Regions from separate parts of the Homo sapiens genome. Here region 1 is linked to region 2. Evidence: fine-mapped expression QTL. A gene starts in region 2. The other region holds a variant in brackets. All regions are shown on one strand. Distances are from middle to middle. Region 1 holds the start of LOC102724152 (a long non-coding RNA gene). Region 2 holds the start of QKI (QKI, KH domain containing RNA binding).

Evidence for each region. PIP is the estimated chance that this variant, and not a neighbour inherited with it, causes the effect.
Region 1: its variant is fine-mapped to the expression of QKI in whole blood (INTERVAL, PIP 0.98). The same link has a PIP of 0.9 or more in B cells.

Annotation. Positions count from the first base shown.
Region 1 is chr6:163,659,161-163,675,175 of GRCh38, forward strand. It overlaps LOC102724152 (a long non-coding RNA gene), which reads right to left and starts at 12,324. Exons shown (of 2, transcript NR_134620.1): 1 at 12,161-12,324; 2 at 5,206-5,497. RefSeq lists an enhancer at 2,285-2,424. The variant T/C (reference allele first, on the strand shown) is at 8,671.
Region 2 is chr6:163,403,422-163,417,904 of GRCh38, forward strand. QKI (QKI, KH domain containing RNA binding) reads left to right here and starts at 11,297. Exons shown (of 8, transcript NM_006775.3): 1 at 11,297-11,914. The coding sequence starts at 11,773. LOC124901234 (basic proline-rich protein-like) reads left to right here and starts at 8,160. Exons shown (of 4, transcript XM_047419614.1): 1 at 8,160-8,288; 2 at 9,193-10,664; 3 at 10,828-11,247; 4 at 11,544-11,755. The coding sequence starts at 9,785. The coding sequence ends at 11,755. It overlaps CAHM (colon adenocarcinoma hypermethylated), which reads right to left and starts at 10,529. Exons shown (of 1, transcript NR_037593.1): 1 at 9,644-10,529. RefSeq lists enhancers at 2,264-2,333, 2,344-2,523, 2,754-2,943, 10,549-11,201, 11,202-11,855 and silencers at 9,936-10,715, 10,806-11,625, 11,876-11,925, 12,126-12,315.

The DNA of each region.
Region 1 (16,015 bases), 260 kb after region 2:
TGACCTGCTGCTAACTGCACTGATGCCCACCCGTCCAGCCACAAAGCTACCATTTTTGAACCATTTGTTGCCTTTTGGGAACTACCCTTGGCTCGTTCTTGTTTCAGCTCTCTGGTTTCCCAGACCCTAGTTTATGTCTTCCCTCTCCCCTTTTTTTGTACTTTAATCCTTATTTTATGGAACACATCCTCCTATAACTTTATGAAAAGATGTAGTAGGAGGTACATCTTTGGAGAACTTACTTGTCTGAAAATATCTTTATTCTATCCTCATACTTGATTAATGCTTTGGCTGTTACTGTATTCTAGGTTGGAAATAATTTCCCATTAACACTGTGAGGGATTTGCTCCAGTTTACAATATTGCTGGTGAGAAGTTGGATGGCATTTTGATCTTTTGATGCTTTGTACCATATCTATTTTTTTGTTTATTTTCTTCCTGAATCTATTTTCACCATAGTGCTGGACATTCAATGGTTCTTTCCAATTTGTAAACATGTGTTCTTCATTTTTTGAAAAACCTCTATTGAATTTTTTTTGGATGATTTCTTCTCCATTTTCTCTGCTCTGTCTTCTGGAACTATTATTATTTGGACATTGGATCTTGTAACCTGTCCTCTACTTTATTTATTTTAATCTTCCTATCTCTTTCTCTCTTCCTTCCTTCCTTCCCTCCTCTACCTTTTAGGAGATTTACTCAGTGTTTAGATTTCAATGTTCTATTAGATAGGATAGGTTTGGCTGCTAAAGTTGAGACATAGTGGCACGCACAAGTTCCTTCTCTCTACATAACAGGCCAGGCATGAGTGGTCAGGGCTGATGTCATGGCTTTGAGGTATCAGGGACCCAAGTGCCTCTACCCTGTAGCTCTCCCGTCCCTAAGGTGCTGGTCTCTTTGGTGAAGTTCAGGGTGTTCCACTACCATGTCCATATTCTTGCTCTTGGTTAATGGGAGGACACAACTTAGATGCTGCACACATTATTTTTGTTTACATGCTCTTGGTCAGAGCTTAGTCACCTCACCGCTTCTAACTACGGGGGAGCTGGGATGTGTGGTCTTTATTCTTGAATCTCATGTTCCCATCTAAAAATCGTGGGTTCTATTACTGTAGAAGAAGGGGGAGAATAGATATCAAGTGATCACTGAGTGTCTCTGTCACAATTCTCACTTTTGGTAACCCAAATATCCATGTACTTTCTTCCCCCACTCTCAAACACATTCACACCTTCCTAAGAAAGAGAACTTGAAAATCAAATTCACGGACTGCATCCCACTTAATAAGGTTCCTGCCTGCCGGCCCACCTTCACTCAATGCCCTGTGGAACCAGGATACATGAGCAGATAACCTCAGCAAAACTCCCACTGAAAAGGAGAATGGAGAAACCCACAGGAATTACTGTCCATTGTGATGCTCAAATCCTACTGGAGAATACGTGTTGGTGAGCCCTCCTGGCTACACCTGCTCTATGGAGGTGCAGTGGGCTGGGCTCTTTGCAATGAGACTCTGCACTCTAAGAGATGCTTCCTTGCCCATGATCCTCTATGGCCATATGGAGCATGTGCCCTGGAGACCATGCCCTTCTTTGGGACTAATGGCTTTTGTAGTCCATTTCCTGCAGGTTTGGAGAATCAAGAGTTTCTAACTGGTTAGAGAGTCACAGGCTTTTACAGATCAATTTGTATTTCTTTGGCAATGCAATCTACTCCAAAACATACACATCTTTCAGTCTATTTTCTCTAGCCAGTTCCATGTGTAGGAAACAGCCAGGAGTCTTATCTGGACAGTTTTTGAGCTTGATCTCTCGTGTATTTTTTGCCCCAGGCTTCTGTGTTCTTCCCATCTTCTCTTTCTCTCAATATAATAGTGGCCCCTTGAGGGTGTCTGAAAAAATGGGCTTGGGTGGAAGGCAACACTTGTATTCTGATTTTTGCCTGCTGGGCTGGCTTCCCTGATCTACCCAAGAACTCTTCAGGAGAGGTAACTGAGACAGGATTGGGGTCAGGCTTTTCTTTGCTGAGGCTCTCCCTCTTTAGAGCCACCCTGCTATCACTGCTTCATCTTGGGTCACAGAACCATTTGGCATTTTTCAACCCTGCAAAGCTGCCAATGCCCAGACTCTTAGCCAGCAGAGACTGCAGGCTGCAGAGGAGAAAGCTCACTTACCAGGGTTGCATTTCCTTCCATCTCTGTTTCATTTCCTCTCTCTCGCAGGCTTTTCTGAAAGGAGCAATGAGCAGACAACACATCTCAGCAGGACACAGTGTGGTGAGGCCAGGTTCATTGCCCCAGTGATGGGAAGGGCTTGGAAGGCAGGGCAGTGGGCCCCTGAAGGGGAGGCTGCATCATCCCACTGGCAGCTCCTGAACTTCTGTGTAGGAGGGGTTATGGGTAGGAAGACACTAGGGCACTTGTCTTGTGACTGTGTCTCAGAGTGGCATGGTGTGCAGTAGTCACTGCAGGGAGTTCTGGAGGAGTTGCTGTGGATTATGGGGGTTCAGCTCCCCCTGGGCCAGCCTGTGCTTTCTCTCTGGGCTAGAGCAAGGGGGGCACCTAAGATGATTAAGAGGAAGCTGGATCTTAGGCAGGTGATTAGGGCCAACCTCATGGTTTTGCCTGGGATCTGCTTTGTTTCCAAATGGACACAGGCAGAGAGAAGCTGTTGCAGAACTGTTTTTGTCCTTGAGGGTGAGTGAAGCTTAGCAGAAAAATTAGTCCCCTTCCCTATCTATGAATTGCTCCCCCATTGTTAATGCCTGTTTTAACTGGAGCAGGTCAGTGCGGGTCAGGAGGATTCATGATTTTATGGTGAATGAACTAGAACAGATATGGGATTACTGGCAGGAATTCAAAGCTCAGACACTTTCCTCAGACCTCTGACTTGCATAATGAAAATTCAGCTGCTCAATTCAATTGGGAGCCAGGTAAACAAGAGAAGGAAGGGTGAATAGGAAAAGGTAAATTAAATCATGAAGCAAATGTCAAGTAGAGGTAAAAGTAGAAGTTAGGCCTGACAGGGGGATGATTTTTGATTCACAATCAGTATTTCCTCCTACATTTCTGATGGGATCAATTTGGTAAGTGGAGGCTGCTGCCTGATGGAATTTGTAGAATCAGTTGGAGAAGGAAACTCCTGTAACCTCTCCCGCTGAGGAAGGACGCGCATCTGGTCTTTGTGGACTTCCCGGCTGTCCTTCCGCCTCCTGTTCCTGATGTGTTTGAAATCCCCAGCATTAACTGGGATTCCCTTCCATCACCGTGCAGCCTTGTTCAGTTCTGCTAGGGGATCAGTTCTTAGCACAAAATAACCCAGCCGTCCTCCACTGCAGCCTCTGGGGACCGGGGACACGGCAGTTTTATTTGTTGACTTCCAACTTCAGTCCTGAGCGGTGGGCTTTAGAACGAGCCTGGCTGTCTTTTATTCTTGTGTAGACTGGTTTTCCTCTAAGACCAGTGTCTCCCAGCCCTAGCAACTCCCTCCTCTGCTCCCGTGGAAAGCCTATGGCCCTGGGAGGGAACGCGTGTGACAAGGACAGAAACCCAGCGTCCAGCCGCAGTGTGTGCGGTCCCCTGACACAGAGATGTAGATTCAGTGACAGAGCCCAGGCCACTGAGCCATTTCCCTCTTTACTCCTGGGCTCGGGAGTAACATATTCAAGGGACCTCTAAACAGAAATATTGGTTAGTCTGTGGATTTGAAGCAAAACAGAGAAAGGGCTTGCCCAGATTCCTCCCCGTGCTTCACGGCAGGACCCAGAGTCCTCAGGCCCTTCTGGACCCCCGCCGGCTTCATTCCTAGACACTGAGCCATGGTCCCTGCCCTCTGGTTGCAGGGGTGACATGGGCATATAGAATGACAAACTCCAAAGCTGACTCAAGGCCACGTGGGGCTGAGTGTCCAATGGAAAAGGAACAGGAGGGTGGCCCGGGAGGTGGTGCAGAGCCCAGCGCTAGGGCCAGTGCACTGGGGTTTCAGCACCCGAATGGCTGCTTATCAGTGGTGACCTTGGGTATGTCCATTGTCGTCTTAGTGCCTCAGTTTCCCCAACTGAGAATGGTAGCTAATAATAGTACCTACAACGAGGATTCGATTAGTCCTTCCCAGAAAGCCCTAAGCAGAGTGCCTAGCTCACAGAAGCTGTTCCGATAAAGGCTAAACTGAAGAGCCTCCTTCCTTGACCTATATGGCTTCTATAAGTTCATGGGAATGAGCCCTCTCCTCTGGTTGGGCCGAGCAGAGGAGGCTCCATGGAGGAAGAAGGATCTAAACTGGGCCTTGGGAGATGGTTAGGGTTTTGTTAGGTGAGGAAGACAAGGGAGGGGGCTCTGGGAGGGAGAACTGCGAGAACAAGGCCTGGAGGCAGGGGAGGTGGAGGGGCCGCTTGCTTGGAGTTGGGGACTCAGTGCTGTTGGGTCGCCCACTCCTGATGGTCACCTTTCTGGGTGAGGAGCTGGTCTGGATGAATCCTGAGAATGAATCACGAAAGGATGCCATAGCTTCTTATGGAAACTCCACTGGCATGTGGGCATGGGAGCCAAGTTCATGTGCCGGAGAGAAGCCGCCAGGGCTGGCTGCGGCAGAGAGTTTATTTTGGACAAAAGTGAGGGACATCAAAAGCAAGCTCGAAGCAAGCAATGGCTGAAGGCAGGGAAGGAAGGTATTATCAAATGTCATCATGGGGACACCGTGACTGCCAAATGCCAGTCAGATCTGAGTCAACATTGGGATATTTTGGGGTCATTATAAAGACTCTGAAGGCTCAATGGTTTTTCTCGCCAGGACACAGTCCTTGCATCCTGCCTGAAGGCTTTCAGGTCATGCCCTTTGCTGAGCCCTCCTATGTGCCCACCTTAATGTCGCTGTGTCTGGAGACCCCCCATTGCTGGTTTGAGACAGCTCCCTCTTCCTTCTACCTGAGCAGTCCTCCTTCTGCAACCAAGATGAACACTCTCACCCACAGTTACAGCCTTCCCACAATGAGCGTATCCCCCATTGCTCCTGGGCTCCTCCACCAGCCTTAGGCCTCATCCCCTCTTGGGATCACTGATGGCTCCTTTTCAATGATAGGAAGAAAGCTGAATCCCTGTGAATATGGTCTATATGGCATTTAGCAGCTTCCTGGGAAAGAGGGGGTACAAGTGGTCAGGACTATTCCTGGATTGCAGCCTTGAAACTAAGGGACATAATTGCAGAATCTAATTTTTGGCTGAGATTTCTCTAAGTGCCATATTTAATGTGACACCACTCTGTGGGGGTTGCTCTCACCCTTGGTTGGTCAGAGGTATCTGGAATACCCAGAAGGTTCTCTTGAACTCCAGAGAGAAGCGAGGGCCTTCTTGGGGCAGATTGGACTTCTGGATTTGGGCCTGATGGAGACAGCACTTCCAGGGTCAGCAGATACAGGCATTCTGGAGTGGGCTGAGAAGCATCTTGCCCGCTTGCAAAGTGGCACCCATTTCCACGGGCTGACAGAGTCCTATGCGGCAGAGGGACGGTGTCCTAGCAAATGAACGAATTTTGGGTGAAACACAGTTCTTCACAAACTTTAAATGCAAGAAGTTAAAGACTGACCAGTTCAGATAGAATTGGCTTAAAGAAGCAGACTGGATACCCGGCTCAGAACCTGCAAGCATGAGGATGCAGCAGGGCTGGACCAGGTGAGCGTCTCTGCCCCCAACCCTTATGAGTCAATCTTTCAGGGCACAGCAAAGCCTTCATCAGTCTTGGTTTCTCTTGGGATTAAAAGTAAATTATGTAATGGATTTTGAGTATATGGTCTCTAGTGCCCTAATTTCTCTTGAAGGAGAGAAATTATCCAATAGGAAGGGAAATTGACAAAAAGCCTGCATTGACTCCATCAGTTAATCAACAGGGATATATCGGCAAGGTGATTAACTCTACTAGAAGACCACAGCTCTGGCCAATTCTATTTTAAATCCAAGTAAGGGTGGTAGAAAATGTATATTTTCAAGTCTGGCCTAACAGTTATATACATACACAGATTTCATAGATTGATGCAAAGAAAAGGTATCTGGGGAGAGGCAGTTTGTGTCATTTATTCATTTCTTGAAAAATTGAGTGTTTGCTGTGTCCAAGCCACCATTTTTAGCATTTTGGGACACACACTTTACACCCAGAGACACACACAGACACACACCCAGAGACACTCATACACACAGACATAGGCTAATACATACAGAGTCACACTCACACAGACACACCCAGAAACACTCATACACACACACACAGTCACACACACAGAGTGACACTCACACTGATACACACACAGACACAGTCACATACAGACATACACCCAGAAACACTCATACACACACACACACACACAGAGTCACACACACAGAGTCACACTCACACAGATACACAGACACACAGACACAGTCACATATAGACATACACCCAGAAACACTCATACATACACACACACACACACACACACACAGAGTCATATACAGTCACACTCAGACACACAGACAGGCACAGTTAAATACAGACACACACCCAGAGACACATACACACTCATAGACATACACTAATACACAGTCACTCACACACACACACACACCCAGAAACACTCATATACACACACACACACTGTTATACACAGAGTCACATACAGACACACAGACATACAGAGACATACATATACACACGTACACACTTATTCTCTGCCCTTCAGGAATTTTACATCTCTGTAAAAATTTTGACCTCTCAAGCAAATGCACAACAGCAATTTAAAACAATTTGGTTGTAGGGCAGAAAAGTGTGCTCCCTGTCTTTTGGGAGACTGGCCTGGGGAAGAAGATAATTGGGGCTAAGACCATCTATTAGCTTCTACTCCAGTGCATGTGTGGTGCTCATCAAGTGAAAAACCACCCCCTCCAGGCCCCGCCCCATGGTCCTACTGGATTATATAATGGACCTCAATAATTCCAAATGAGCTATTATACTCTGCCATATAATTATATATTTAGGACACATGTAGGGTTAAAAAAAGAAATCCACAGGAAAACACTGAAACAAATTGCAGAGCAATTTCAGTGACTGATTATATTTAAGCTGCAGTGTGTCAGCTGTTCTCATATTTTTTTTTCAGAGTTCCCAAATCCGTTAGACAATATTCTGAAGCTATCAAACACTGGTCTTTATTTTTGAATCAAAGTCATTTTAGAAACCACGTCCCTGATCTTTTCGAGACTCATAAAATATAAAAATGGCATCTCATTTTTTTTTTGGACAAGCTTTTTATCTTCTTTGTCCTCTTCAGATAATAAAAATACTAACAATAACAAATAAAAGCAGTTGTCATTTACCGAGCTCACGTTCTCTGCCAAGTACTGTGGTATGTATTTTATATCAACTCATTTTAGTTTTCACAGCAAACTTAGGAAGGAGCCATGAGTTGTATGAAGTTCCTGTGGTTGAGGAAGTTTAAATATCATGTTTAAAGACACACAACTCATAAATGATGAAGTTATTACTAGAACTGGGCTAATCTATTCTTATAAGTTTTAGCAAAATGACAGCTATAAATTTCCATTTCCCAGAGTATTTTCATATGTGTTGTCTCATTGATTTTTCACAGTCCTGAACATAGATCAAGGCTCAGTAGAGTGTGGTTGCGATTTTACAGAGGGAAACCCAAGGCTCAGAGAGGTCATGATTTACCCAAACACAGCTCACTTCCAATAGGGCTGCTGAGGCCGTGGCCACGCTCTGCACCAAACAAAGCCAGTGTGCAAATTGGGCCATTGGACCCAGCTCCAGTGCTCATTCACAATCCCACACTGAAAAAAGCAAGAGAACAGAACGAACGCACATGCAAAACCACCTATATGGCATCAAGGAGGTCTTTTTCCTCAAGTATGAGCTAGGCTTTTCCAGCCTGGCTGGAAAGCCTAGCAGAGAATGGGATTCTCTGCTAAGGTCAACAAGATGCGGCGCAGCCACTACCTACGAAGCTGCTTAGCACGCCCCACTGTGTGCCTGCCCAGGGGAGGACACGCAGCCCTAGGGGTCTGCTTATGATTTCTGCCCCTGCTTGTCTCTGCTGCTTGCAGCCAGCGCTGGCTGGACATGGAGAGCCAGCACCGAGTTCCATTGCTTCCATTTGGCACCAAGTGCCTGATGGAGCTGTCCACTCTCAACAAGAAAGGGGCCTGAGGTGTTGGGGCAGAATGAGGGTCCTCGCTTGAGCTCACCTTGACTCTTCTCACAGGCCAGGCCATGAAGGGAAGGGAAACGGAGCAAAGCCAAGAGACAGGGAAAAGTGTGGGGGATAACCTGGGGGCTGGAGGGCTGGTTGGGGGGTGCAAGGGGCGGTCGCGGTGAAATCTGGCCTTACGGGCACGGTGCTAGTGGGGAGAACGTTAAAGGAAGTCACTTTAATCTTCAGAATGAGCTCAGAGGTCCACAGGGTGGATATGGAACCCCTATTCATTCATTTAATATATGATTAGATGTCAGTGTTGTTGGAGTTACATTTTAGGAAATGACTATTCATAATGGAAGTCCTGGCACGGTTTCTTTCTAATCAGCAAAACGGGGTGGTGGGCTCAGCTGTGGCACCCTCGCAAGAGGCTCTTAATTTACGAGTGATGTTAAATTATGCTGGCTGCCAGATAGTCAGATACGGGAAGTGATACAATAAGTCA[T/C]TGGGGATGTGCTAGTTCTTCTTTTTTCATTTGACAACCACAGGAAGTGGCCATTAGCCAAGCCATCTGAGAGAAAGCATCTGATTGCTCTGCTACGTGCACAGTATCTTGAGTAACTGCAAAAGCCTGAGAGGAAGGACTGCAGGGGGTGGGGATGAGAAGCAGGGTGAGGGGGAGGATAGAGATCTGGGGGTCAGGGCCCTCAGAAGCTAGCATCAGGACAGCTCATGTGGCTTGTTTTTCGCAGGCTCCCCAGGGACTATTCCAGGTTGGGCTAAGCCTAGTCAGGTTTGTCAAAGCCCTACAAAAATAGTTCATGTTATTTCTGTGGCAAATCATGCACAAAGAACTTATGAATAACTAATTTCTTACTTGGCTCTTTTCTAGAAAGGGTAATTCAATACAATGCGCTTTCCAGTCTGTCACAACTGCACGAGGGCAGAGGCAGATTGCAGGTGGGGCAGGACTTCGTAGCCAGGACAAACTTGACTGCAGAGGGTAGCCTGTTCCTCAACCTTCTGAAGCCCTGACTGAGACTTGAAACTGTAGAGAAATTAGCAGGATTCTGGGGAGAACAGAGTCTGGAGAGAACAGAATGGAGTGTGCATGTTTGAAGATGTATAGTTTCTAACAGCAATTTCAGTGCTTGTAGGCAATTTATAAATATTCGAGAAAGATGCTACCATACTTGGCTGAAAGGCTGACGGAGATGGTATTAGGTAACGGAAGTTACAGACAGTGGATGTATGAAGCTGATATTATAGGAGTCCCCTTTCCATCTGGGCAGTATGAACAGGTTGCAACTTACCCTCCTAGTTAGATCCTAGCCGTCTTAGCTTCCTTTTCTGGCATGGCCAGCCATTGCTTTCTGACCTCTTTGAAATAAATACTTTTATGCCCATAAAAAGAGTGTTTTTTTTTTGAATTAAGAAAAAAAGACTTTGATTGGATGGTTTCTAAGCTTTCTTGCACATCGGAGTCACTGGGTGATCTTGATAACATTCCAGTGCCTTTCTTTTCTTTTTTTTTTTTTTTTTTTTTTTTTGAGACAGAGTCTCGCTCTGTCGCCCAGGCTGGAGTGCAGTGGTGTGATCTTGGCTCACTGCAAGCCCCGCCTCCCGGGTTCACGCCATTCTCCTGCCTCAGCCTCTCCGAGTAGCTGGGACTACAGGCACCCACCACCATGCCTGGCTAATTTTTAGTATTTTTAGTAGAGATGGGGTTTCACTGTGGTCTCGATCTCCTGACCTCGTGATCCGCCCGCCTCGGCCTCCCAAAGTGCTGAGGTTACAAGCATGAGCCACCGTGCCCCGCTTTTCAGGGCTTTTCAAAGATCATTTTCTCCAACTCAATGTCCCTGCATTTTCCAGAGTTTGTTTGTTAGCATTGGGTAGCAGTCAGACTGGTTATTTTGCTGTAACAAACGACCGTGATATCTCATGTTGGAGGGGCAAGGAAGCACAAGCCCATCTTATTCCCAGAAGGAAAGCCAGAAATATTTGTAGGAAAGTGATAGCTATGCCACAGGGATTATTGATTTTGCATTCTAGATTCTTTTAGTTTGAGTAATTCCTTCCAGAATTTTTTGTCTTATAATTTTGAGAATTAAGATATTAATTTTGCTGCCTCAAAATGGAAATGCTTTCTGGAACCAGGAAGGCAATACCTCTGGTTTTCTTGGACACTTTTGTGACCATTTTCTTAGTTTTGATTACTTCAGCAGTTAGGATTTTTTTAAACAAACAAACAAATCAAAACAATAAATCCTACTGGTAGATCTGACATAGCTAGTGATTTTTGCACAAGGGCAAAGGAAATCAAAGAGCATAGAGCCTCTGTATGGTTTTGGGAGAAGGTAATCTTTCCTCTTGGACTTGCACCCTCCATCTTATTGGCCAGGGTTATGGGCCATGGCCACCTGGGTTGCAAAGAAGCCTCCCTTGCAGAGGAAGGGAAGGAGAAGGGAGAAATGTAAATGGCTTTGGTGGAACCAATGCACAGTGTGAACCCTCAGGAGTAGGCAAAACATGTGCTGTAAACTCCAAGTCTAGGCTTTGGGCTATTGTCCCTGATAGTTCAATAAAACTCTCTAGTTAATCCCTAATAAATTTGTGACTGGAATGGCCTGCAGGTTTTAAGCCATGAAAACAGTTAAATGACCTCACATTGCAGTGTGAGCATCCATTCGGTAACCTGGGTCACTCCTTACCGTTTACCCACACCTAGATTTTGGGTCATGGTGAGCTAAGCAGAGTTGGATAGAAATTGAATATCAAAATGGAAAATGTCTATACCAAAGTGATCCATCTGATGAAATTACAGTTCAGAGACATTTTATAATAGAGCTACAGAATATTGAGGCTGGATGGAAAATGTGCAATGGAGCAGTTACAGTTCGGCATCCTCTGCTGAAGTGAAGCAGAGAATTAAGACAATTACCTAGTACTTCAGGCAAGAAGAGGTAGTGCTTGTCTTTCTGAAAATAACCTTCCTGAGTCCTATAGCTTTCCCCAGGCCACCAAAGATAACATGAGGCTATCCCCATATTTCCCCTGGACTATTGAGTTCATTCTGGAGGAAAATGGCTCTCAGGAGTTAATGGCATTAAGATGTGGTCTGGGCTTTTGGCTGGTAGATCTTCAGTGAAAGCAGATGGCCACAATGGTATTAAAACTAAAGACTGCAGTAAAGCTTTTAATTGAAAACAATTGGACCCTGCTGGATGGTAATTACCTTGGCTGCTTGCAAATAATATCCTGCCCCTGATGCCATGAAAGAAAAGCTGAGACGGAGTAAACAGGATCTGCTTGATGTGCATCTAATAAGCATGGAAGTCCCCAAACTACTTTCTCTAGGGGTCCTCCAGTAAAAAGAGTTAGAAATGAAGAGGAGAGCTTGCTGTAGCACAAATTGTAAAGACAAAGCGTTCATTTAAAAAACAACCGAATGGGTCCATATTTACTTGGAGAAAATTGGAGTTCCATACCTTCAGGAAAAAAAAAAAAGATACTTTAAATGCTTCTTTCTTTTCTCAGTTAATGATAAACGCTAATGAGGAAGATGTCTCATTTGGATGAGTTCCTTGTAGATCTTTGTGCTGCGATGCCTGAGAAGTCACAGGCATTGGGCAGTCGAGGCTGAACTGTAAGGTTCATTTTCCTCTTCACTTAAAGTTTTAACCTCTCGAAGCTACGATGGTTCAAATAATATTTAAACGTGGACAGTAGCTATGCAGGAGGCAGTGACGTAATAAAGTTCCCAGGGACTCAGGCTGGAGGTTAGATGCGTGGGCAAAGTTTGACCACAGGCTCCTTTCTAAAGAGTCTTAGAAGGGAAGACTAGGGGCGGGGTGGGGTGGGAAAGGTCTTAGGAAGCCAGGGGCTGAGTGGCTCCCAGAAACCACGCCTGAGATCTGAGTGGGTTCACTGCACGGGGCTGTAGCACCGCTGCTCCTGCGTGGCCTCCAGGTGGTCCAGGGGACCCCACTCACCTGCCAGGTGGGAAAGCCTGGCCTTTTCCTGGATCCTGGCTAGCACTGGGATTTACACGCCTGCTCATCACGCACTGTCAGGAGGCTGCTTCCCTGAACAGCCTTATCTCAGCAGTAAGGGGCACCCACCTGCCCACCCACCCAGGCTTGCCACGGTAAGTCGCCTCCACCTCCCAGCGGCTCCGCTGAGGCTTAGGGCGGGCACCCGGGAGGATGCTGGCCCTGCCCCCATTGACGTCATGCCACCATGTGACTCACTCTGACCAATGAGAGGCAAGCGGAAGTGACGGTTATTCCTCCTGCGCGGGAGCTTTGGGGACGCACTTCTGGATGCCTAGGCCTCTTCCGTTTGCCTCTGGGACTGGCGATACTCGAGGTAATGGCTACTGGGGCCAAGTCGTGGGCGACCTGCAGTGCATGGGTAGAGTAAGGTGCCTCCGCCCAGTCTAAGCAGCCCTCCCCAGAGCTGGTGGGTTCCCAGGAGTGATGCCTGTTTGTCAGTGAGGCCCCGCGGGGATGAGGACGGAGCATTACGCAGCGCACTGCGCCCCCTTGAACTCTGCAGATGCCAGGGTGAGATGGGAGCACCGCGCCAGTCCCAAGGCAGTGCTGGGTGGGCAGTGTGGGGCCTGGGACGTCTACCTTCAGGCCCTCTGACTCTCGCTGGATTCGCTGTTCCGGGCAGTGCTGCAGCGCAAAGGCGCCAGGCCTGGCGTGGAACCCGAGCCTGCGCAGGGCCGCGTCTGCGTTCACAGGGAACGGTGACCCCATTGTGGCAAAACATCTAACTTAGCTACACATACACGGTAATCGTTTATGGAGCAATAATAAAGCACAGAACACAAAATCCACGCGAAAAAGAAAATGTGCATACACGATTTCTTTATAAAAAAGAAACACTGGCCGGGCGCGGTGGCTCACGCCTGTAATCCCAGCACTTTGGGAGCCCGAGGCGAGCGGATCACGAGGTCAGGAGATTGAGACCATCCTGGCTAACACGGTGAAACCCCTTCTCTGCTAAAAATACAAAAAAATTAGTCGGGTGTGGTAGCAGGTGCCTGTAATCCCAGCTACTCGGGAGGCTGACGCAGGAGAATCACTTGAATCCGGGAGGCGGAGGTTGCAGTGAGCCGAGATAGCGCCATTGCACACCAGCCTGGAAGACAGTGTGAGACTGTCTCAAAAACAAACAAACAAACAAACAAACAAACACCAATAAAAGAAAAACTCCCTTAATTATACTTTGGGAGCTGGGCTTGGCTATTTCCTTCCTAGAATATTCTCCTATGTTCTCGGCAGTCTAAGTTGTGTGCTGTTATGTTTGGTGGACATCACTTTGTACTCACTACATTTAATAGGGGCACAATTCGTTGGATTTCCCGAGGTCTGATTAGTGATGGTTTCTGAAGCAGCTAGTTGATGTTCAGTTCTGGAAAGTTCTCCCTTATAGAGCAGCGGGAATACTTTCTCAGATACCCTGTTGCCTTTAATGGCTCCACACATGATACCATTCTCTGTTAAGCAGCAGGTGAGCAGGAGGGGCGCTGTACAAGTCATCAAGGTCTCTCCTCCAAAAGGCAAGATTCTCTTGTAACCATCTAATATATGGTCTTGACAGTTCAAAGATAAGAGTTCCCTGGGGCCTGAGACAAGCCTCTTCCTTTGGGGAGGAGCCAAGTTTTAGGAAATCTGCCTTCACATTAAAACACAGTTTCTCCTAGCAGCTCTGACTCGTTGGTCTGTGGGTCCTTGTAGAATGTCTCATCCCTCTTTATGTGGTACCTGTTTGAATGTTTGAAGGCAGTGACCCTCGTCCTCTGAGTTATTTTCTTCACGCCTTTTTTGAGCATGGGGTTGTGGTCTTTCTGCAGCCTTAGTAGTATTCCACTGGGGACCAAAGGGAGCCCATGCTTTGAATACAATTTTTGAATCATTCTATTCGTCCTGTTTAGCCCTGAACATTTCAATTTTGGTGGCAGTGCCAGAATATGCGAATAAAGGACTATAATACACTCCTTGATACTGGATTTTGTTTGAGAAGGATGTAATGGAAAAGCAAGTTAGCTTGAAACATCCCATAATTTTTCATGGGTAGTTACAATAACTGCTTGCTGTTGGTATTGTGCTATATAATTGCACAGTGTAATTGCTTCTTGTAGTCCTATAGTATCTGTTCTATAGCATTCTATTTTATAGGTATTTTTAAGGTGCATTTTTTATCGATTTGGCATATACACAGCAATAAACTGCTGTGGAATTGATTAGATAGTAGAGTGAAGCTGAAACATTTAGTGCATTGATTCTTAATCTGTAAAGATGTTTATTTGCAGTTCGGCATATATTTATTACTATAGTGTAAGTAATGTTAACATTAAAAAGAGTATTTGGGGTGTGTATGCTTCTAATAATAAATTAGAAGTTCCATTGTGTGTTAGTCCATTCTCGTATTGCTATAAAGAATACTTGAGACTGGTTAATTTATAAAGGAAAGAGGTTTAATTGACTCACAGTCCTGCAGGCTGTACAGGAAGCACGATGCTGGCACCTGCTCTGCTTCTGGGGAGGCCTCAGGAAACTTTTATCATGGCGGAAGGCGAAGGGGGAGCAGGTGTATCACATGGCCAGAGCAGGAGGAAGAGCGAGGGTTGGGGAGGTGCCATACACTTTTAAACCACCAAATCTCATGAAAATTCACTCCCTATTGCAAGGACAACACCTAGAGGATGGTGCTAAACCATTCATGAGAAATCGTCCCCCACGATCCATTCACCTCCCATCACACGCCACCTCCAACTTTGGGGATTACATTTCACCAGGAGATTTGGGCAGGGACACAGATCCAAACTAGATCACACCATTAGCCCTTTCCAGATGGTTCCCAGCTTAATGTAGGCCAATAGTAGAAAACCAAGTGATGACTAGAAGATCTCCTAGGCAGGGATGTTGATACCTTGCATGTTTATACCTTTTCCATGCCTTGCACAGTGCTGTGACAGTGTAGGATCATGACTAATGTTAGTTGATTGAATGACTCTAGGGAGGTTATTGTTGAGTCTTCCAGAACTAGTACAGTCAAGTGGTGAATTTTCTTCACCTTTATTTTCCTTGAGCAAAAATGAAATGATTCCTGTTGCCTCTTTGAGAATGAGCATCCTACTATAAAAGAGCATTTGTAGGCTTTCTCACTGGGTCCTTGCTAAAGATTTCCTGCAGTTCTTTTTCGTGGTCTTCTTTAGTGTTTTACTAGTGTTTTCTAATGACTGCTATAATATATATATATATGAATATTGTCTGTCTTTAGACATTAGTTTATTTTGACTCATTCCTGGTCCTTCTTTCCATTTTGCTTCTATTGGTGACCAATGATAGTATGTAGTTAGAATACTGAATTTAATTTTGGGGACGGATGGCACAAGGAGACTGGTAAGATGGAATGGAGGCTTGTTCTTTGAAATGACATTAACCTTTCAGGGTGTCAGGGAACTATTTAGTGCATTGATCCTTCAGTTTTTGAATTGTTCTCATTTTCTGTTTCCACATTTTGATCTGGTGAGTAAAGATCAGAGTGAAGAGGGGGAAGATGGGATGTGATTGGAGATGGGAAAGATGGATGGAAAGATGGCATGGGGAAAGTAGATCTAGTCTCTCTGGGTCCTGGCAAGCTCACAGATAGATGTGGGCCTATATATGGCTGAGAGAGCCTGATTTAGTTTATCACTATTAGAGGTAGTTGACTGAGGTAGCCAGGAAACGTTATTCATAGCTCTCAGTAAAGTGAATAATTTACTCCCCTTCCCTCTGATAGAATGAAATCTGTAAAGCCTTTGGGACTCTTTGGGTAAAGTGCTCTACAAA
Region 2 (14,483 bases):
TTAAAAAGCTGTATTAAGATGCTAGGAAAGTCTTACATCCAGGAAGTTCGACAGTAGACATCAAGAACAAGGTTATGGGGTGTTCATGTTGCACTCATATGCATATGTTATATTATACATAAGAAATTCTATCACATCACACCAGCAGGTTTCAAGTTTAGCGTAACTCAGGGCCCCTCAGAAACTCTGCATGGAGAGGCTGTGGGGAGGATGGGAAAGGACCCACAGACCACGATGAGGACAGAGAGAATGGGAGAGGGCTGAGGCAGGAGCTGCTGAACTTGAGGCTTGAGGCGGGGGAAGCACGAAGAGGGAAGGCTTTGTGCTGAATTCAGATTTGTGTGGCTTACTAAGTGAACGGCAGCTCAGTGCTGTGATGGTGATCTTGCTTCGGAGAAATCTGGTGTGAAAACAGATCATCTAAGTTTTTGCTGTGGTCTCTGGCATTACCTTTACTTAGTGCATTATCACTGCACACAAGGTACACAATAAGTCACTTTTGTAAAAATAGATTTCAAGAGGAAAATTCTTACCAAGTTCCTTATAATGTCAGGGATTCAATTATAGTTCAGACTGAAGCACGTCCCCAGGTATCTATTGGTAATGTGTCGCCCTCTTGGTGAGCAAGAAAACATATGATGCAAATAGAAATTTTGTTCAAGATTAGTATTACAATGGGGTATGTGATTCGCGGTGAAGCAAGACTCATAATTGAATCCCAGAAAGGTTTATTTGAAAGCTTTTTCCTTTCAACTACCTTGATTTAATTGTGTGTGTCCTGGCCTTCATTTGGAGATGAGGCTCTGAAAGCCACTTTGTTACCTTGAAAACCACTGAGAGAAAGTCCTGACTCCATTGGTAAGTTTTCTGGAGGCTACAGGTGTGGCCCAGGGCTGGGAGGTGGTGACAAGACTAGGAGGTGCAGAAGTCATAATTTTAAGGACCTAATCTCGTTGAAGCGAAATTTCTAGGGGGTTACCAGGAGAGATGAAGCTGATTTCAAGGCACGTGCAGGGAAGGTAGAAGGAGCCACTGCTGTCTAGCTGCTTCCTGCATGATCTAGTAAAACAAACTTGCAGAAGCCACTAGTGAAGTACGTATATTTTTGTCTCTCCACTTTCAGATTTTAGGTGATTCAAAATAAGGGCTATGTTTTCCCATGGTATCTGATTAAAGCTTGTTGCTATTGCTTTCCAAGTATCTAGTGAAGTAAGCCAAAAGCATGGTTTGCTGAGTGGGCAGGTGGGGCAGACCCCCTTCTGGCTCCTTCACTCTCCTACACTGCTGCGGTGGCCACCTCGGGGCAGGGATTGGAGAAAGCCCTTGAGCTGGCATAATGCAGCCCAACAGTTGCTTGGACATCACAGTTTAAACCCTGGGTTAGCCCACAACTCTCTGTGCTAGAATATCATCATGGAATCTAACAGGCGTGGTGAGCTCCTGGACCTTCCGGAAGACGGGATCTCCTAAGCTCCCTCCACTAACTGCCAGGCCCACTGTTTCTAGGGCAGGCGCAGGAGGGAGGCAGCCTCTCCTTTTCCACTTGGTCCTGCAATGACACAGTGGCTTTCAACACTGGGTCTTGGTGGCGACCCCTGGCCAGCTTTAGAGCAAGTGTTGTTGCTGCTGACAATGGGGCCAGCCCAGGACTGAGGCTCCTTTTCATCAGGCTGTTTGTCCCTTTACGTCCTAGTGTCAGCAGTCCTGGGAACAGGAAACGGTTTGTGCAATAGGAAGCAGCAGAAAACTGATGACTGAATACTTTTGAGCTTTGTGGAGAAAATTTCAACGTAGAGAGATTGCACACATCCCAAAATACGTGTGTACGAACTGGAGCCCTATCCAGGCCTCCTTTTCAATTCTTAAAATGATGCTATTTATTGAAAGCTTACCATGTCCCAGGCATGCAGTGAGGCACCCATGCCATCCTAACATCCTTATGCTGCACCACCTTACCTTACAGGCAAGAAAAGAGAGGTGCAGAGAGTTTACGTTGCTTTTAGCAAGTGACAGGGTCGAGATTTGAACCTGGGACCTCTTCAGTGACTTTTCTGGATCCTCCTGCTCTGCAGCTGCCTCGGAGGACCAGCAAATTCTTCAGGAAAAATGTTTCAGGACTTTCCGTCCTTGTTTCAGGACCGTTCCTCTGCATTATCTGTGAGAAGCGTTTCTATAGTCTTGGCACATAGTTATGCTGTGGGGCTAAGGTATTATTATTTCATATTTCAGTGCAGAAGGAAGTACTTATTAAAAGGCCCCAAACCAGTTGTCTGAGCCTAGAGATGAAAGGCCTCCTTCCCGCACCGGCCTGGGTGCTGAGTGGCCCTGACGCCAGGCCAGCCTGCCACTTACAGTCTGAGACTTGTGTCTGCTCCCTCTTCCCAAACACAGAGGCAGGGCCTGGCTGGGGCCATCTGATGAAGTGCCAGTGTGCCTTCATGAAATCAGGCATGGGACTGACTGAAAAGCTGAAATCTGGTGAGCTGAGGGGGAGGAGAAGGTCAAGTCTGGCTGTCGGTCTACAGAGGTCAAGGACCTGGCACAGAGCAGGGCCTGCTGCCTCTGCCACCAACAGCCAGGCACCCAGAGAGGAACTGGAGGAGAAGGCGGCTCGCTGCTGGCAGGTCAGCTGATGGGAGAGTTTACAAGACTGTCTTTGAACTCCTCGCATGCAAGCCCTTCTTCTCCTTCCTGATTCACATTTAAGTTTGCGTTCCTGATCCCCTCACATTCTTTCTGCTCCTTTAACAGCTTCACCTGGACACAGAAAGGACAGAGGCAGGAGCAGGGCCACGTCCCTCTGTCGATCACAGCTTTAGCTTTCAGTTTCTCACGGCTGCTTAATTCCCAGCTCACACTATCAATATAGGGCACGCATTTTAAAACTGTTAAATAAAAACAGCTGCTCATTTCACTATGCCACATTTTCTTTCCAACTCAAAAGGATGCTCACTACCAATGGATACTGAGAAAAATACAGTGTCATTAATGTCAGTTAATCAAGTTGGTGGTCCTTGAAGATCTATAAAATGTAACTGTAACACATTTTACAGATTGGCTTAGACAGAATAACTAGGAAATAATAAATGCTAGCATCATCAGTATTACTTGTACAGCTCAGCAAAGGAACGCAAATGGCTACACAGGACTGGGGAAGAACAGAACAGAGATATTTCTTTGTGTGAAATACAGAGTTTATCATAAGGAGGAGAATGAATCACTTTTCATCTCTGGCAGCAACCTGTTTTTTTAACATATTATTTATGGAAAATAGAAAGCAAAACTGAAGCCTTTGGTATTTCATTGCCACTGGATAAATGTCATTTGTATAAACCTTTCTAAATTTGGATATATACCCAAAGAACCTACATGTATCTTAGACAAAAAACTATCCACTTTCATTACATTTAGTAAAAACTCATAAGCCCAGGATTAATGGACATAAAGATATGAAATAAAATAATTTTCTAAATATGCAAAGAAGCCCATACAAACAGAAGTAATAATCAAAAAGTTGTAACAGTTGGTCCAGCACAGGCATAAATGATCAGTGTCTGCCAGCCCTGATGGGGTCAGGGTGCCAGGCATCTTGCCTTTGGTTGCTGGGTTAGGGGGGTCCCGGGGCTCCGGAAGAGGGCCTGGGTAGTATGGCTCAGAGCAGTGACTGCTCACTGAGTGGTGTGGGAATCTTTCAAAATTTAAAAACTGAAAAGGCTGTACTGGTGTGTACTGCTTGAATCTCAGTGCTACAAATAATTGCTTTTAATCTTTTTTTTTTTTTTTTTGAGACAGGATCTTGCTCTGTTGCCCAGGCTGGAGTGCAGTGGTGTGAGCTCAGCTCACTGCAACCTCCATCTCCTGGGTTCAAGCCATTCTTGTGCCTCAGCTTCCCTAGTAGCTGGGATTATAGGCGTACGCCACCACACCTGGCTAATTTTTGTATTTTTTGGTAGAGATGGGGTTTCGCCATATTGGCCAGGCTGGTCTCAAACTCCTGACCTCAAGTGACCTACCTGACTCAGCCTCCCAAAGTGCTGGGATTACAGGCATGAGCCACTGTGCCCTGCCTGCTTTTAATCTTATATCTGAATAAGTAGTGAACAATTCTGATAAAATATCATTGCTATACAAACTCTTCAATGTTAAAACCAGAGGCGCTCATTTTCTAACCTGTTATAGATTCAGAGGACTATGGATTCCCTGGCCTAGTTGCCACAAATGCTGTTTCCTGCTGAGTAAGACATCGCTTACACTCCAAAATACTTTGCAAGAATCACTGAATTACATTGCAAAATATGAACACACAGCATCAAACACTACCTGTCATTGAAGGCAAAGAAATCTTTTGGATTTTCAGATGCTATGAGCAGCTTACATGGCTGCTTCCTCTCCTTAGAGTCCAAGTATGTCTCTGTGTTTTTTCCTTTTTTTCTTTTGTTCATTCAAAGAAGTAATTATTTAAAGTAGACTACTTGTAAAGCATTTTAAGAGCAGAAAGAGGAATAAGACCTGAATTCTACCTTTAAGGAATTTTTATGCTCTACTTGTAGTAAGTTTCTTCATCAAGAGCTCTAGATGAAATTTTTTAGTGCTCCACTTTCTATTAAGTTGTAGTATGTTTAAAAAAATAAGAAAGATTTGATTTTAATTCTTTGGAAATTACAAAAATGTAACATTTTCAGCCAAATGTGTTGCCTAAGGGAAATAAAAATTCTTAGTGTGTGTGTGTGTATATATATATATATATATATATATACACACACACACACACAAAGAATTTATAGTTCTTTATATATATTATATATAATATACATAATATATAATATATATCCATATTATTTATTTATTACTTATTTCAACAAGTTGTGCAAAATTGGACACCTAAAGGTTTTTATATTAATTTCTTATTGCTATTACATGACCATCCATCTGCATACAGGGTTATCCTGGGTGCAGAAATAAAATTACAACAAGGTCAATTTGCTAATCTTAGTGAGGATATTTTATTTAGAATCACAGAATTTTAAACCTTCGAATGACTTTGGAGATCACTTAGTTCAACTCGGATTCAGGGTTACTTATGCAGTGCTACACAACTTATTAGCATAGAACGAATAAGGCTTTTTATACCTAGCACAGCAATCCTTTCTCTATACACCATCAGCTAGAATACTGGAAAAAAGAGACTCAAACGCCACAGGTATTTTAATTAAAGTACAGCTCCTGAGGTACCCAAGTTTAACTTACAGAAAGGTCAACAGTGTGCCTTCCATCACTCAGGACTCCGAAGGTCTGCCTTGAATCCTGTCCTGAATTCAGTAGCTGCCACATGAGTCACATTATGTAGTTAACCCTCTCAGCCTCTGCTTCTTCAGCGGTAAAATGAGGATAATTATTAACTCAGAGTTGCTGCATACTCAGTAACTGAAGTGCCCGAAGGTTGATCGGGACTCTATAAATGTCAGTCTTTTTTTTGGTCTTTCCTTGGTCTCACTGGGAACTCAGTTAAGAACGCATTAATATACAGAAATTACTGGAAAAGTACATTTAGGCTCTAAGTTAAATTTTAGTAAAGGATAATGGCATTTGATTAAATGTCTGGGACATGAATAGTCATTCCCCTTGTTGGTAAAATGGTCACCCATATTAACTTTTAAAACTAACTCATAGACTATAAATCCAACATATCCATTTAGTATGTTAAAAAAAATCTAATCACAGATGCATCCTAAAGGGTCCCAAATCTGAAGGAAAAAAATAAAATAAAATAACAATCAACCCAATCCAGGAGAGCACCTGTGAAATTGTCTTGCAATCATAAAACCAAGCATCAGTCTGGGAGTAGATCAAAACAAAATGCATTTGTAACTCACTCTCACCTTCCTGTGATTGACAGACAGTTATTTTTTAGGTGGTTTCTGTTTAAATATGGAATGAAGGTTGGATTATATAGCACAAGGACCTGCATCCTGGCTGAGAATGTTTTTACCTCTAAAGTTTCATTTAGGGTCAAATGAGTAGAAACCTTACACTGTCAGTTACCGTTTAACCGTTGTGCAGTAGTTTAAGCTAAATGTTAGTACTACATCTGGAATGATCATGTCAGTGGCTTAAAAAAGCAGCACAGTTACCATTAGAACAGCTGTGAAGAGCAATGCCTTTCATTTTACAAATGTTGTATTTGTACTAGTAGATATAAATAAGGTTCACTGAGAGGAATCCATGTTACTATCTAATTTGTTCATTTCTTTATATTAAAAAAAAATTCCTTTTGAGATCAGCCTGGGCAACAACCTAGGGAGACCACCTCCCCCCTGACCGCCCCCCGCCCCCGCCGCCATCTCCGCCCACTCCCCATCCCAACACACACACAAATCCCAAGGCTCTTCCCCTACAAACACTCTAGTTTGATGTTCAAGGCCAACCAAAATCTGGCATCAAATACTCTCTGTGGAAACTCCTACCCTAACACCTCGTACTTTTCCACTTCCCAAGTTCTGTCATTGCTGTCTCCCAACACTCTTTGCTCCGCCTCGAGATCAAATCCACCTCCCCGGTGTGGTCTTACAATGGCTTCCGGGCAGGCAATGTTGGTGCTCACCGGTATTTTCACAGCATTTTTGTCTTTAGCCTTTACGTGGCAGTTATTAGTTAACTTTTTAAATGTACCTGCACATGCTATTAACTCCCAGCTCAGCCTGTAAATGCCTTAGGGTTAATGATATGCATTTACATATAACAGGTACTGGAAATATTTAAGATATTCACATTTGAAATGTTTCATTTTCAATCTTTTAAATAGTACCTGATAAGCCATCTCACAATTTAAAAGTAAAAAAAATTTTAAAAAGTAAAAAAAAAAAAAAAAAGCGCCATCTCGTAATTTAAAAGGATGCTCAAATCTATTAAGACAATAAACAATTATTTTGCGAAGATACCAAGAATGCCCCAATTCCTTTTAGGAAAATCTAAAGACTAAGATTTTTAAAAAGAACACTGGGACAAAAAGCCATAAAACCCTAAATCTTATATCCAAGGAACATTATAGTTCTTTCGAGAACTCTATGGTGATAAAGAAAGGTTTGGAATACTGCAAATTTCTATTTTAAATGTTAAGAATAGCAATAAGCAAATAGAGCCAATCAAATTTAACAGAATAGAAAATATGTTTCCACGCCTGGTTAATTACTGATGTTAGAATGTGGAACCATTTTTAGTGTCAACATATTAGATGACAATTTTTCACAGTGAAAAAACCTATTATAGGGATCTTCAACTGGAGGCTCATTCTGTATATATACTCACTACATGTTGTAATTTATTTTCAATACTGTATTAAGATAACATTTTTGTAATAATGTAATTATTACAAAGTTAGTCTTTCTACATTTTTTTTTTTGAGACGGGATCTTGCTCTGTTGCCCAGGCTGGAGTGCAATGGTGTGATCACAGCTCACTGCAACCTCTGCCTCCCTGATCCTCCCACCTCAATCTCCCAAGTAGCTGGGTCTACAGGTATGTGACACCAGACTCTGTTAATTTTTGTATTTTCTAGAGAGATAGGGTCTCACTATGTTGCCTAGACTGGTTTCAAAATCCCGGGCTCAAGTGATCCACCTGTCTTGGCCTCCCAAAATGCTGGGATTACTGGCACAAACACCGCACCCGACCCTCTGCAGCTACTTACTCCTCCTAAGCATCAGCCCTCTCATCTCTGAAATATGGCTCTTCCTGCCTACCTCAAATATTGGCTGTAAGGATGAAAATAAACAATGAAGATAAGGGTTTTGCAGAGCTTCTGGTCCATAACAAGTACTTAATACTTCTTTTGGACATATATTTAATAAGTGCCTACGTGTACCATATGCTGATCTAGGTGTTGGAAATTCCTAATAGAAGAAACTCCTTTTTCTCATGGAGCTTACAATGTTGATGCCAGTGGCAAACGAGTTGACCCATTGTTACGTGGAAACAAATGGTATGAAAAGAACCTGGGGTAAGCAGATGGAAGAAGGGAGGAAGTGTTTGCGTGCACAAAGGCGCCATTTTACATAGGGTGTTAAGGGACACCTTCTAAAGATAAATAGGGGCAGGGGTCGCCGATGTATGGGGAAAAGCTTTCCGAGGAGAGCAAACACCAAGGGCAGAGTCCTGGGGAGGGTAAGCATGCTTGGAATATTTAAGGATCCAGACGGATTCCACGGGGGTGCAGCCAAGTGGGCTGTGGGAGGAGAAGGACATAAGGTCAGTGATGCACCAGGGGCACACCTGTCGTCTTGCAGGACTTGGTAAGCTCTTCGGATTTTTTCTTTCTTTCCTTTTTTTTTTTTTTTTTTTTGAGATAAGAAACCATTGAGGGACTGTCAGGAAATGAGGTGATCTACATAGATTTGAAAAGGTAACCTGCCAGGCACGTGGCTCACGCCTGTAATCCCAGCACTTTGGGAGGTTGAGGGGGGCGGATCACCTGAGGTCGGGAGTTCGAGACCAGCCTGACCAACATGGAGAAACCCCCGTCTCTACTAAAAATACAAAATTAGCTAGGCGTGGTGGCGCATGCCTGTAATCCCAGCTGCTCGGGAGGCTGGGGCAGGAGAATCACTTGAACCGGGGAGGCAGAGGTTGCAGTGAGCCGAGATCGCGCCATTGCACTCCAGCCTGGGTGACAAGAGCGAAATTCTGTTTCAAAAAAAAGAAAATTAACACACAGTAGCTATTATCAAATGCTGTAACCGTAAGTGATTTAATACATAGGAAATGAAAATTGCCTATCATTGTTCTTTAATCTGGTTTAAGTGGTTGAGCCTTATGACACTGCCATTTCTATGGGTCAAAAATGGTGGAATATTGTCATAAAATTCAACCTGATTTAAAGGATAGGGCAAGGAAAAAAAGCAAAAAAAAAAAAAAAAGCTTTAGAATAAAATATAATTGGATTATAATCCCAGACACAGGACTCACTAGCTATATTCTTGGGCAAGTTACTTAACTTCATCTTTCTTGGGTTTCCCCTTATTTGTAAAATGGGGATAACAGTCTAACCTAAGCCCAAGTTGTACTGATGATTAAACGAGATATGCATGTAGGGCATTCAGCATAGTGCCTAGGAGCTTAATAAATAAGCAGGCCATTAAGAAGGGGATTGCATCTTTTACACTAGCAGCATCAAAACCTTGATTTTGATTTTTCTAGGTACTGAAACAGCCTTCATTACTTAGAGACCATAGCTTTTTTGCAAGTTACTATTCCCTGCATTTAGAAAGTTCATCTTTAAACAGGCAATTCAGTAAGTAAATATTCTATGGCTCTAAAACAGATACGGCTGTTGGAGACTTTAAAACATCTGACAGTTACATTTTTAATGTTGTCTACCAAGGCTATTACATTTCCTCTGTCAAAGTAACTTAATTTTAAAAACGAACTCTGTGCTTGTTAAACGAAAAGGCCAGAAGGCTACTGGCTACTCAGCGTTCATTTGAAATTCTTATAGTGCCTTCAGTACAATTCAAACTTAGAGGTGATTCTCACAATTCATGTGAAGCAACATTTTACAAAAAAAATCACCTACGTTCACTGTTAAGTCAGAAGACAGAATGATTAACAAAATCTCAGCCGCGAATTACTCTCACGATGGCCAACTGGATATTAAATAACTCTGCATTATTTTAATGGAATGTTATAAAGGATTTGCAACAAAATGCAGACGTAGATTTAGGGACTGCCGACTTCTATAGATCAAGGACTTCATTGGTGCAGCTGAGGAAATTCTTCCAAACAAGTCTAAATGTTGGAAATCCACCAAACTGCAGAGAAAGACCTCTTGCCTCCGTATTCTTTCTTCATCTGTAAAAATGTTGACTTCTGCTTTTCAGACTACGCGCACAGCCTCTTTATTTCCTACTGCGGCTTCATTCCCTCACGGAACACTGACGCCATCGCGAAGGAAGCATTTCGAGCACGACTGACGCTCCCCTTATTATTTGCTAAGCCGCTGCGCTCGGGTCTGGCTACGATTTGCTTTCAGAATAACGGGAAGGTGCAACAAGATCGCTTCCCTAGAGGCGCGTCGCCCGCGTGGCCCGGACCCCCCACGCCCGCCCGCCGCCCCGTGGGTGCGCACGCGTGTCCGCGCAGGCTTCCCGCCTGGCGAGTGCAAGGCTCCTCTCCGCCGTGCTGCTTTCCAGCCTCTCAGCAAATCACGAACACCGAAAGAAGCCACGGCGGCGACGGGAGGGGCGTCGCGCGTGCTTCCCTCGGCGACAAAGCGGGAGCCGGGCGCGCCGGCCGAGGGCGCCCGGCGCAGAGTCCCGCAGAGGCGGACGCCGCGGCACGCGCCTCGAAAAGCCTCAAACTCTTATCCTCGGCTCTCCCGCCCCACCTCCGCCCCGCAGCCAAGACCCGCGCCGTGGCGGGCCCGACGGCCAAGGAAAGCCCACCAGCCCTCCGCACCGTGGGCGACGGGCCAAGACCCGGCCCTAAACGGCCAGACCCAGCCCCTAGTCGGCTGCCGCCCCCGCCCCACGCAGGCGCGCTCCGGGGCCCTCCCCTCCCCCACCGCGCGCTCGCGGGGCCCGACGGGGGCGGAGCGACCCTCGGAAGGGGCGTGGCGACCGGGCTCGACGCGCGCACGCGCTCTGGAGCCCCACGGCTACGTGTCGGGCCACGTGATGCCCACCCCGAAAGTCCCCCGTGAAGCAACAGGACGTTAAAAAAAAATTTCTCTTCTGCGGGGTGGATAAGAGGTTCTGAAAAAACTATAGTAACGGGAGGCGAGGCGGAGGCAGCGCTGGCGCGTCCCGCTGGAATTCCTCTCGCCTGCCGCGCCAGCCCCGACCGCGCCCGCAGCCCCACCCGCCCCGTGCCGTGGAAAGCCCCGCGCCCCCCCCGCGGCCGTCGGCCCCGCAGCCCACACCCACCCGCCCCGGGCGCCCCGCACGGCGGCGACCCAGTCCTTGCGCCCAGGCCCGCCGAGCGCCGCAGTCCGTCACACTCCCGTTGCCCCCGTCGCCCGCCCCGCCGGGGAGGCAGGGAGGAGGGGGCGCGGCGCCGGCGGCTGCCCCGGTCGCGGGGCGGCGGGCAGCAGGCAGCGGGAGCGCGCCGGCCGGGACCCGCTAACGGCCGCCCTGCGCGGCCCCGCCCGCCGCCCGCCCCCGGCCCTCCCCGCGCCGCTGCCCCTCCCCCCGCCGCCGCCGCTGCTGCCGCCGCCGCTGGCAGCGCCGCCTGAACTGAGGCGAACTCCGCCGCCAAGTGAGTGAGGAGGAGGAGGAGGAGAAGGAGGAGGAGGAAGAGGAGGAGCGCAGTCGGAGCGCGGCGGCAGCGGCAGAGGCGCCGCGGCGGGGACCAGCCCAGAGAGACCCCCCGAGCCCGCGGCACAGGCGGCGGCGGCGCTGAGCGGGCTCGACCAGCCGAGCGAGCGGCGGCCCCGGCTCCTCCTCGTCCGGCGCCAGCAGCCCGCGCCCCGCGCCCGCACTCGGCCAGCCGAGACCCGCCTCCCGCCCGCCCGCCGGCCTCGTGAGGGACGCGCCGAGCCGGGCGGCCGAGAGCGGCGGCGGCTGGGAGCGCGTCGGGCCCGGGCGGAAAGTGCCTGCGGGGGGCGGGCGAGCGCGCGGTGCCGGCCGCCCCGGGGCTCGGCGCGGGAGCCAGAGCGGGAGCCGGCGCGGAGCGGGACGCCGGGTCCCGAGCGGCCCGCGGCCGGGGCTCGCCCCCGCCCCTCCCTCCTCTCCGGCGGCGGCGGCGGCGGCGGCGGGCGGAGTGAGCTGCGGAGCCTGGAATATGGTCGGGGAAATGGAAACGAAGGAGAAGCCGAAGCCCACCCCAGATTACCTGATGCAGCTGATGAACGACAAGAAGCTCATGAGCAGCCTGCCCAACTTCTGCGGGATCTTCAACCACCTCGAGCGGCTGCTGGACGAAGGTGAGCGTCTCCAGGGCCCCGGCCCCGGCCCGACCCCCGCCGGGGCGGCCCCTTTCCCCGCTTGGGATGGTGGGGAGGGCGGGAAGGTCACGGCCGGGCGGGACCGAGCGCCGGGGGGACTGGGAGGCCAGGAGGGCGCACAAAGGAGGTGCCGGGCCGGGCTTGCGGCGGGCGGGCGGGCCGGGGTGGACCCGCCGGTGCCGGACGCCCCCTGCCCGGCCGGGACCCCGCGCCGCTGGCGTCCAAGTTGGCGCGTTGCGGAGGGCTGCGGGGTGAGCCCTGCGGCCCCTCTAGCTTCGGCGGTCACATTTCCGAGAGGTCGGCGGGGGCTGCGCGGACTCGGTGGTCCTCGCCGAGCCCTCCCGAGAGCAGGCCCACGCCGCGCCGCCGGCCTGGAGGACGCGTGTGCCCGGCGCGGGCCCCGCTCCTCCGCTCGGCCTCCCGAGCCTGCTCTGCGCGGACCCCCACCGCCCCGCGTTCGGGAGCTCTCCCCTCCCGTGAGGACTAAAGCGGGGTTTCGTGGTTGGGGAGTTGGTGCAGCTGTTCAATACTAAGTGGAAGTCAGTGTGGGGCTCGTTAGTTTAAAGAAATTCCGTAGGAGACCGAAATTATGCTGGCGTAGCCGACAAGGAGGACTAAGTGACGGCGAAAAGCACTTTTTTCCCTTTTGTTTGGGGAAGCGAGAACTGTTAGGGAGTTGAACTTCACTTTTCGGGGGTGGGGGGGGGGGGGGTGGAGTGCGAAATAACGCGATGACAGATCGGAGCGCAGCCTGAGTTAGAAGAACTTGGGCGGAGGGTTTGCTCCCGGGGACGCAGCCGCCTGAGTTTGTAGGACAGGGTTTCGAGACGTTTGGAAAGGGCGAAATAAAATTGAGCCAAAGTTTCCAAAAAGCTGTATGGAGCGCTGTGGGGAGTGAAGAATGACAAGAAGATTAATGTTGACCAACTTTGGAATTTCCTTAAGAAGTTCTCATAGCAGTACCTGAAGTATTAATTTCTAGTAGCTGTGGGTTTCTGTGGACGCCTAGAGAAAAAAAAGACCACAAAAAAAGTCTGTTTCGAAAATCGACTGGCCAGGAGTTTGTTTGTTTTTTTTTCCTGCTTAGAGGCACCACCGGAGGACTGTGTAAAGGAAACTGAAAACTACAGGTTGAAGAGATGAACAATGGAGTTTAGATTTTTCGCAAGAATTTCGAGATTTTAAAAATAGAGTCGGGGAACAGGAGTTTGAAGCTTGGGGAGTTGGAATGTCACTAGAGAACAAAAGGCCGGAAATGTTTCCATGATAAAAAATGGTTAAAGAAAAATCCCAGGAGTTCTGTTGTCTTGAAAGTCATAGAAACAACTTAAAAGTAGAAAATGGTTAGGTGTTACGGCTTTCTCGTCGTTTTGCTTCCGTATGTTAAACATACAGCACTCACCAACGTTGAAATGGGCATTTTCCGCTGTTGGAACAGCAAATCTGTTAATTTCAAGTTGCTCCAGAGAAAACCTGAGCTGTCCCTTTAAGGGGTTCTGCTTTTCCTATTTGTGTTGGCATTTGAAAGATTGTGGAGGCAGAAAACTTTCTGGAATGTCAAAAAAAAAAAAAAAATGCTGGAACTCTTAAATTGAGTATTTCCAAATGTGAGCGCTAAGGGGCGCCAGTTATTTTTTAACCATGGAAATGGTTGGAACAAAATGTGTAACATACTCAATCTGACTGACCTATATTAAATTTAGTTGAAACTTAAGTTATAGATTATTTGATTTGTCATAATGTGTTTATATAGTGTTTTCGAACATTGAAAATACTTTCCTTAAAATTATTGGCACAACTTTATGACGTTTCAAAATAACACTCTTACTGTCTTCTCCTTGGCATATTTTGGTTAAGTTAAAGTTTTAGTAGTATTAGTAACAATTTCTGGTGAAAGTTTGTTTTCTTGAGTGCAGTTGTTTAGAAGGAATCCTTTATCGACGATAAAATGAAAATAGGCCTTGGCAATATTTAGGGTTAATTAAAATTAAATTGCATTCCTGAAATGTCGAATTCAAAGACTATAGGAGATTCCAAAAAAAAGTTTGAAAATACTTTCACCTTATGTATACTATTTAAAAAGCTGCATACTTTTGCGTTCTTTAGTTTTAAAAGGCTTCTTGTGCTTTTATGTTGATCTAAAATCTCTAAATTTAGAGCTGATTCCTTGTTATCAAGTTTCCAACCTTAGGCTTTAATAATTTTTAATCTTTCAAATCCAGAAATTTCAATTATGTCATTGTCTCTGACAAAGGCTTATTTCTCTCTGGTTGGAAATAGTACTCGTTTGCGTTTTAAATGTAAGAGACCACTATGATATCTCCTAGATAATGTTTGTTTCCCCTTCCCCTTTTAATGTGGTTTACTCCATCTCTTGTCTTGCTATCTTTAGTTTTAGCCTTGTCAATTCCCCAGTGTAAAGATTGCTTCTGTGTGGCATATAGTATGTTTAAAATGGGCAATATAATGACGAGGAAGTTTGATTGTTTTTTATCAGACCAGTACAAACATGCAGGAAAAAGGGCTATTCCTTAGTGTGGAATAAGCG